2 separate regions of the Homo sapiens genome follow, and region 2 is linked to region 1. The links come from fine-mapping of genetic effects on gene expression. Tissue or cell type: ileum. Region 1 holds a variant in brackets; the other region holds the start of a gene. All regions are shown on one strand. Distances are between the middles of the regions.

Region 1 (2,914 bases):
TCAAAACTACTAGTAAGAATTATGTGTGGGCAGGGAGAACCAAAAGAAGGGAGGGGTTGGTTCATGGCCAAATATTAGTAAATTTAGGAAACTCTGGGTTAAGCAGGTTTAAAATGCTAACGTTGTGTTACGTTGTGGATTTTCAAGGCAGTGTTCAATATACTGTTTCTCCCAAATGTATTAACTAGAAAACCACAATATGTGCAGCACTGTATACAACATTTCATGAAACTGGTGTTCCACGGAACACACTCTGAAAAATATCAACTGTGTCCATCCAGTAGTTCCACCCTGAAGTTCCTGGCTGTAGTATAAATCTGCAGGTTATTTCATGCCTTGAAAGATAATCTAGTTGAAATATATTATTTACCCACAATAATACTTTGCAGGCTAACTTTAATGACAAGTTTCGTTTCGTTTCATTTATTTTGTCCATAATTTTGTCATGGAAGTAGCATTGGTTGTTTTCTACCCTTAGGTGCTCTGAAAACTTGATGATACTTTAGGAATTTCAGAGGCATTGGTGGATTAATTACTGTGTTCAGAACCACATCTAAAAGGTCATCATAACTTAACTAAAATTTTTAGCAGTGGAAAAGTTGAAAATATTATAGGAGTCATAGATTCTCCTAGTACTCAATCACATATGTGTTCAGTCTTTAATTTATTCCACACATATCTGCTGGAAGCTTATGATTGGCCCTGCTTTGTGTTGGTTGGTATTTTTCTGCATTATGAATTTTATTTTTATTTAGTTCATATTACTAGGGTGGTAACTTACTAGGTAATTGCTTAAATGTATAGTAGAATCCAGGCAAGCTTAGAAAATTTAATGCTGCTCCTATCACTGAAGTTTCCTTGGGCAGAAAAGGTTTTAAAACCACTGATTTAAACTATCCTCTTGATTTTTTTTTTAAGTACACTAATGCATCATAAGATTAAAATGCTGATATTTTACACCTAGATTATGCAGAACCTGGGGATGGATCCCAGATATTCTTATGCTGCTAATCTTTCCCTCTTACCTGGCTGTTGTTACCATGTGTTGTAAGTGAAATGAACAGAAGAAGAACCCTAAACTGGGAAAAAGGAAAAAAATACGGAAGGCAATCTTTTGAAGACTTAGAATTTGTTTTAAGGTTTCTTATGTATTATTCCTACCTGTTGGCAATTTAAATTTAGCCAGGTGCAATGGCTCACCCCTGTAATCCCAGCACTTTGGGAAGCGGAGACAGGAGGATTGCCTGAGCCCAGGGGTTCAAGACCAGCCTGGGCAACATGGCGAGTCCCTGTTTCTAAAAAAAATTTGTAACAATAATA[G/A]ATAAAAATAATAACTACAGTTTTGGATTTCTGTTCAGAATCTGGAACAGTTTGAGAGTTGAAGAGTTTCAAATGCGGGTAATCTGGGAGTTTTTTTGTTTGTTTTTGTTTTTGAGATGGAATCTCGCTCTGTTACCCAGGCTGGAGTGCAGTGGCGCAATCTCGGCTCACTGCAACCTCGACCTCCTGGGTTCAAGCAATTCTCCTGCCTCAGCCTCCCGAGTAGCTGGGACTACAGGCATGCGCCACCACGCCTGGCCAATTTGTGTATTTTTAGTAGAGAAGGGGTTTCACCATGTTGGTCAGCCTGGTCTTAAACTCCTGACCTCAAGTGATCTGCCTGCCTCTGCCTCCCAAAGTGTTGGGATTACAGGCATGAGCCACCGCGCCTGGCCCAAATGCTGGTAGTCTGGTAGTAGAACATCTTCAAATCTCTATCAGATTAAAGTTTTGCTTACAGTAATCTCAGAGATCCTTGAAACCAACCTCAAGGAAAAAGGAAGGTGTTTTGTCTAAATCGTTAAAATAGTGTTACAGAGTAACCTTTGTTTCCCTGGAATATACATGGAAATAGTTCTATAACTGATGTCCTGAAAATTGAAAATCATTTATCACTGTGACTGAGGTCTTGCTCTCATCTAAGTCTTCAGTAACTCAATCTTTATTAACATGTGGTAGATAAAAATAATAATATTCCTTCTATTTTTTCTTCATATTGCCCTATCTGACATAGTCTTAGAATTTTAATGACCTGCGGCAGTTTATGGTCCAGTGGTTGTGGAAGGAAGAAGTACGCATCTGCCTCATTCATTTTTATCTCTATTAGCCTGGAAAGGACTTTGCCATCTGTTTTATCTCCCTCATTTCACAGATGAGGAAATGAAATCCAAAGGTCTCATCCCAAATTAGTGACAGGGCGAAGACTTGATAAGCCAGCTCTGATGCTCTTTCCTGTTTGCTAATCTATTTCTAGCAATTCTCATGAAAATATTAGAGATGAGCTAGATCTTATAGAAACATATAAAAGCAGTATTAACGGATAAAATATGACATTTAATTTCCTATTCTATATTCTTCCTATGATGTCATCTCAGAAGGATGGTTTGTGCAAACTGAAGATTGATAAGAACTGGAATTAAACATGCTTCATATGTGTTTAAGCATTAGAAAAAGTTATTTGGAGTCTTTTTAGTTACTTGAATCCTGGATTAAACTTATTTTCTTCATGAGAAATTCACTACCTACTTCTGGTTCTAATTTGAGGGTTTCAAGTTTAATTTTTCCTTCTTTCAAACCTTTAGAAGGAGGAGGTACCATGTGCTGACTTTCACACGCTGTTTTTGCTTTAGCTGTGTCATTGTGAATTTATAAATATTCTACCCGGCATCAGTGTTAAATTTTTTGGTTCTAACTTTTTTTCTGCCTTGTTTTCTAGATTCACGGCCCTTCCACAGTACCTTCCACAATACCAGTGCTAATCTGACTGAGAGGTACTATAAATTTGTTACTCCTTTTTCCAGAAATAAAATGAAGAAAATTTAAAATCTCTTAGGCCATTTAATTACGTAAACTAAGTTAATTGAGCTTATTGGGT
Region 2 (2,914 bases), 78 kb after region 1:
CATTCTCCCCCTGTAAAGGGCTATCTGGGCATTGGTCCTGGTGTTTAGTGCTTTATAGAATTTGACCTCAACTTTTAACCCTACTATCATTAAGTCTGTATCAGAGAATCAAGTGGTTTAACCAAGCTTGCACATACATGAGAGCCACACGTGAGAGCTTGAACCCAAACTCAGGTGGGCCTAGCTCCAAATCCACATTCTGTCAGTTGCAACCGTGTTTTTTCCTCCTCCTCCTCCTCCTCTTTCCAGCATGAGACATTGGGCAAGTTACTGTGACCTGTGGACCCATTTCTTCATCAGCAAGAAGAGGACAAGAATGTCTACCTCCGGGGGTCACTGTGAGGGTTAAAGGAGGTAGTTATGCAAAGCACTGGCCAGTGGGCTTGACAACTGCTTGACAAGAAGGGTTTGACAAGAGCCAGGATCTTGGCAGATGACGGCTCTGCATGCTCCCAGAGAAGCGGGAGGCAGGGCGGTGTGCCCAGGTTCCTTCCAACCCCTGACCCAGCATGTAGAGGAAGAGGCTGCTACCTGTCTAATATCTACGCTCCCTTTACTTGGCGTTGGAGTCCTGGAGTTTCCTCGGGGCACTTTCCAGTCCCGCTCGCAGTCAGGCGTGGATGTGACTGAGTTCTAGCTGTTGGGAAAATGGAGAAGTTATGGTGCAACTTCTGGGACATGCCCTTAAAACAGGCTTGCCCATCACTTTCTCTCCTCCCCTTTCCACTGGCTGGAATGCAGATGGGATGGCCGGGGCTGCGAAGGCCAGGGTGGACCAGGAAACCGCTGCCTTGCATGGAAGACGGCAGGGCAGGGAGAGAGGGGGTGGGAGTTGGAGAGAGAGGGAGAGAGGGGGAGAGAGTTGGAGCCCTGTGGGCCACAGCTGGCTCACACTCACCCTGTGACTGTGTGACAGGGAACTTCACCTCTGCTGCTGTCTGGACTCTAGCTGGAGCCAACTCCTGGCTTTGGATGCCCAGAGTGAAGCGCTCAGGCCTGTGTGGAAGTGGTAGCGTTCACCTGTGGTCCCCACCACTGCTACAGGAGCAGACAGTGCGAGGCAGAGTCCCAGGATGCCCCTCCCAGGGCTGCACCTCTGGGCAGGGGGAGGGACGAGGCCCTCTGTGCTCTTGGCTCTTCTACACGCACCATACTCACCTCTGAGACACACCCGCTCAAGATCATTCCATTTTCTAAGGAATCTGGCGTCATGCCCCTACGCCAGCATCAGAAGCACTTCTTACACTGTGAAGGCGCTATTTGGATTTTGTGGGCCAGCACACCACTGAGCACCACGGAAGCCACTGCTGAGAGCCACCGTGCTGGGGCACCTCCGGGTTCCTGTTCACAGCAGAGCCACCCTGCACGCAGGCTGCGCCACGGCATGACCTTCTCGGGCTGCCCGCTGTCTGAGGGGCGCCTGAAGGTGAGATCACAAAACACAGAACACGATGTTTACCCGTGAGCATACGCTTGAGCTCATGAGGTTCATGGTGACTATGAAAACGCACAAGGAGGGCAGGTAGCCCAGGGCCCACGGTGCAACCAGTGGGCGCAACGGTGCCGTGAGCTGGCGCTGCGGCCGTGAAGCTGCCTCCTGGAGCCATTTCGCCCCTCTGAATGGCGCTCGGGTTATTTTCAGACAAAGGAGCATCAACTGGAGGTTCTGCCTTTTCGAATGGATGGAATTACATTCCCAACTTCTATTTACCAGAGTTTCCAGGAGAGAATCACTCTCAGGAGGGGCAGACAGGATCAGGACTCTCCACGGAATCAACTTCATGGCTTCTAAAGCAACTTCAGGAGGCACAGGAATGGGGAGACCTCTCATCTGGGTGGGTTCCCCCTTCCCAGCTCATGAGAGGGGCAGATGCCAGCAGGCAGGCCTTGAGCCTTGGCTGGTGGGACAAGACCAAAGTCAGCCACCAGCAATGTCTCCAAGACTGATCCCAGCACACAAGGCAGGCAAAGAATTTTCTCAACTCTTTTTATTAAGTTAGAAAACTGATAAAAGCAACACAACTTTTGGGGAAAGCACCATGGCACGTCCTTTGTGCTATGTGATAAGTGTGCTTTATCTCAATGAAGCAACCCCACGGGTCCAGGCACCCTCCCTGCAGTCCCCGCGGCCAGGCTCCTGAGTGTGCCAGCAGAGCCGTCCCCTGGGACCACAGCCAAGTGCCTTCGGGCAGCTGGCCTGACACAGGCGGGGTCTGCTGGGTCTACAGGGTCCAAGGAGCCCCATGCAGCCAGTGCCCCATGGCGGGCGTGTCAGTGGGCAAACCCTGCCCAAAGGTCCCACCCCCAAGAGGCCTCCAGGACCCGCACCAAGGCATGGGGGACACTCGTGGCTGCTTAAGTAACTGGTATGTGCACAGCCCCCTCCGCGGCCCTAATCTTGAGCCAGCCAAGCAGTGTTCACACTGCAGGTGCCTGGGAAGCCCCAAGTTTGGACACCCTGCCCAGTCCCTGTCAGGGCACCAACACCCCTCCCTCTCAAATGGTGGCTTGGGAGTGAGCGAGAGGCATTAGGATGGTCACTGACAGGCGCCAACCTCTCCATAGCCCAGGTGTCAGGGAGGTGCTGGTGAGGGACCCCAGTGACTCAGGAGGTGACAGCAATGAACAAATGTTCAGCAGTTCTCTCGGGGCCATTCTTATCTTGGAGCTCAGGGAGCAAATGGGGGCCAAAACGCAAGAGGATGGTGAGGGTCCCGTCACTGTCCTCCACACTGAGATGGATGCGGCCCTGGTGGGATCTGCAGGGGACACCCTGGGGTCCCTCTGCTGTCTCCAGCTCACAGCTGCTCCTGGTCTTGGAGGGCAGCGTGGTCTCCTGGGGAGAAGCCCCCAGTGCTGTTGGCAGGTGTGTGCCATGGGGGTCACTGCTGCCTCTCAGGGTGGGCTCTGAGGA

Alleles and levels. Positions count from the first base shown, and alleles are read on the strand shown. Sizes are in standard deviations (SD) of each study's normalised expression.
For the expression in ileum of the gene that starts at base 1,373 in region 2, A is the low allele of the variant in region 1 and G is the other (moderate effect, 0.45 SD a copy in GTEx).

Evidence for each region. PIP is the estimated chance that this variant, and not a neighbour inherited with it, causes the effect. A credible set is the group of variants that fine-mapping cannot tell apart.
Region 2: LINC02883 starts here. The variant in region 1 is the best candidate, but not a certain one, in a credible set for the expression of LINC02883 in ileum (GTEx, PIP 0.64).

Annotation. Positions count from the first base shown.
Region 1 is chr15:85,679,403-85,682,316 of GRCh38, forward strand. AKAP13 (A-kinase anchoring protein 13) reads left to right here. Exons shown (of 37, transcript NM_007200.5): 15 at 2,756-2,810. Among named protein-coding and RNA genes, the nearest start is that of LINC02883, 78 kb to the right of the region's middle. The variant G/A (reference allele first, on the strand shown) is at 1,321.
Region 2 is chr15:85,757,353-85,760,266 of GRCh38, forward strand. LINC02883 (long intergenic non-protein coding RNA 2883) reads right to left here and starts at 1,373. Exons shown (of 6, transcript NR_120366.1): 1 at 1,159-1,373; 2 at 899-996; 3 at 532-637. KLHL25 (kelch like family member 25) reads right to left here. Exons shown (of 3, transcript NM_022480.4): 3 at 1,974-2,914.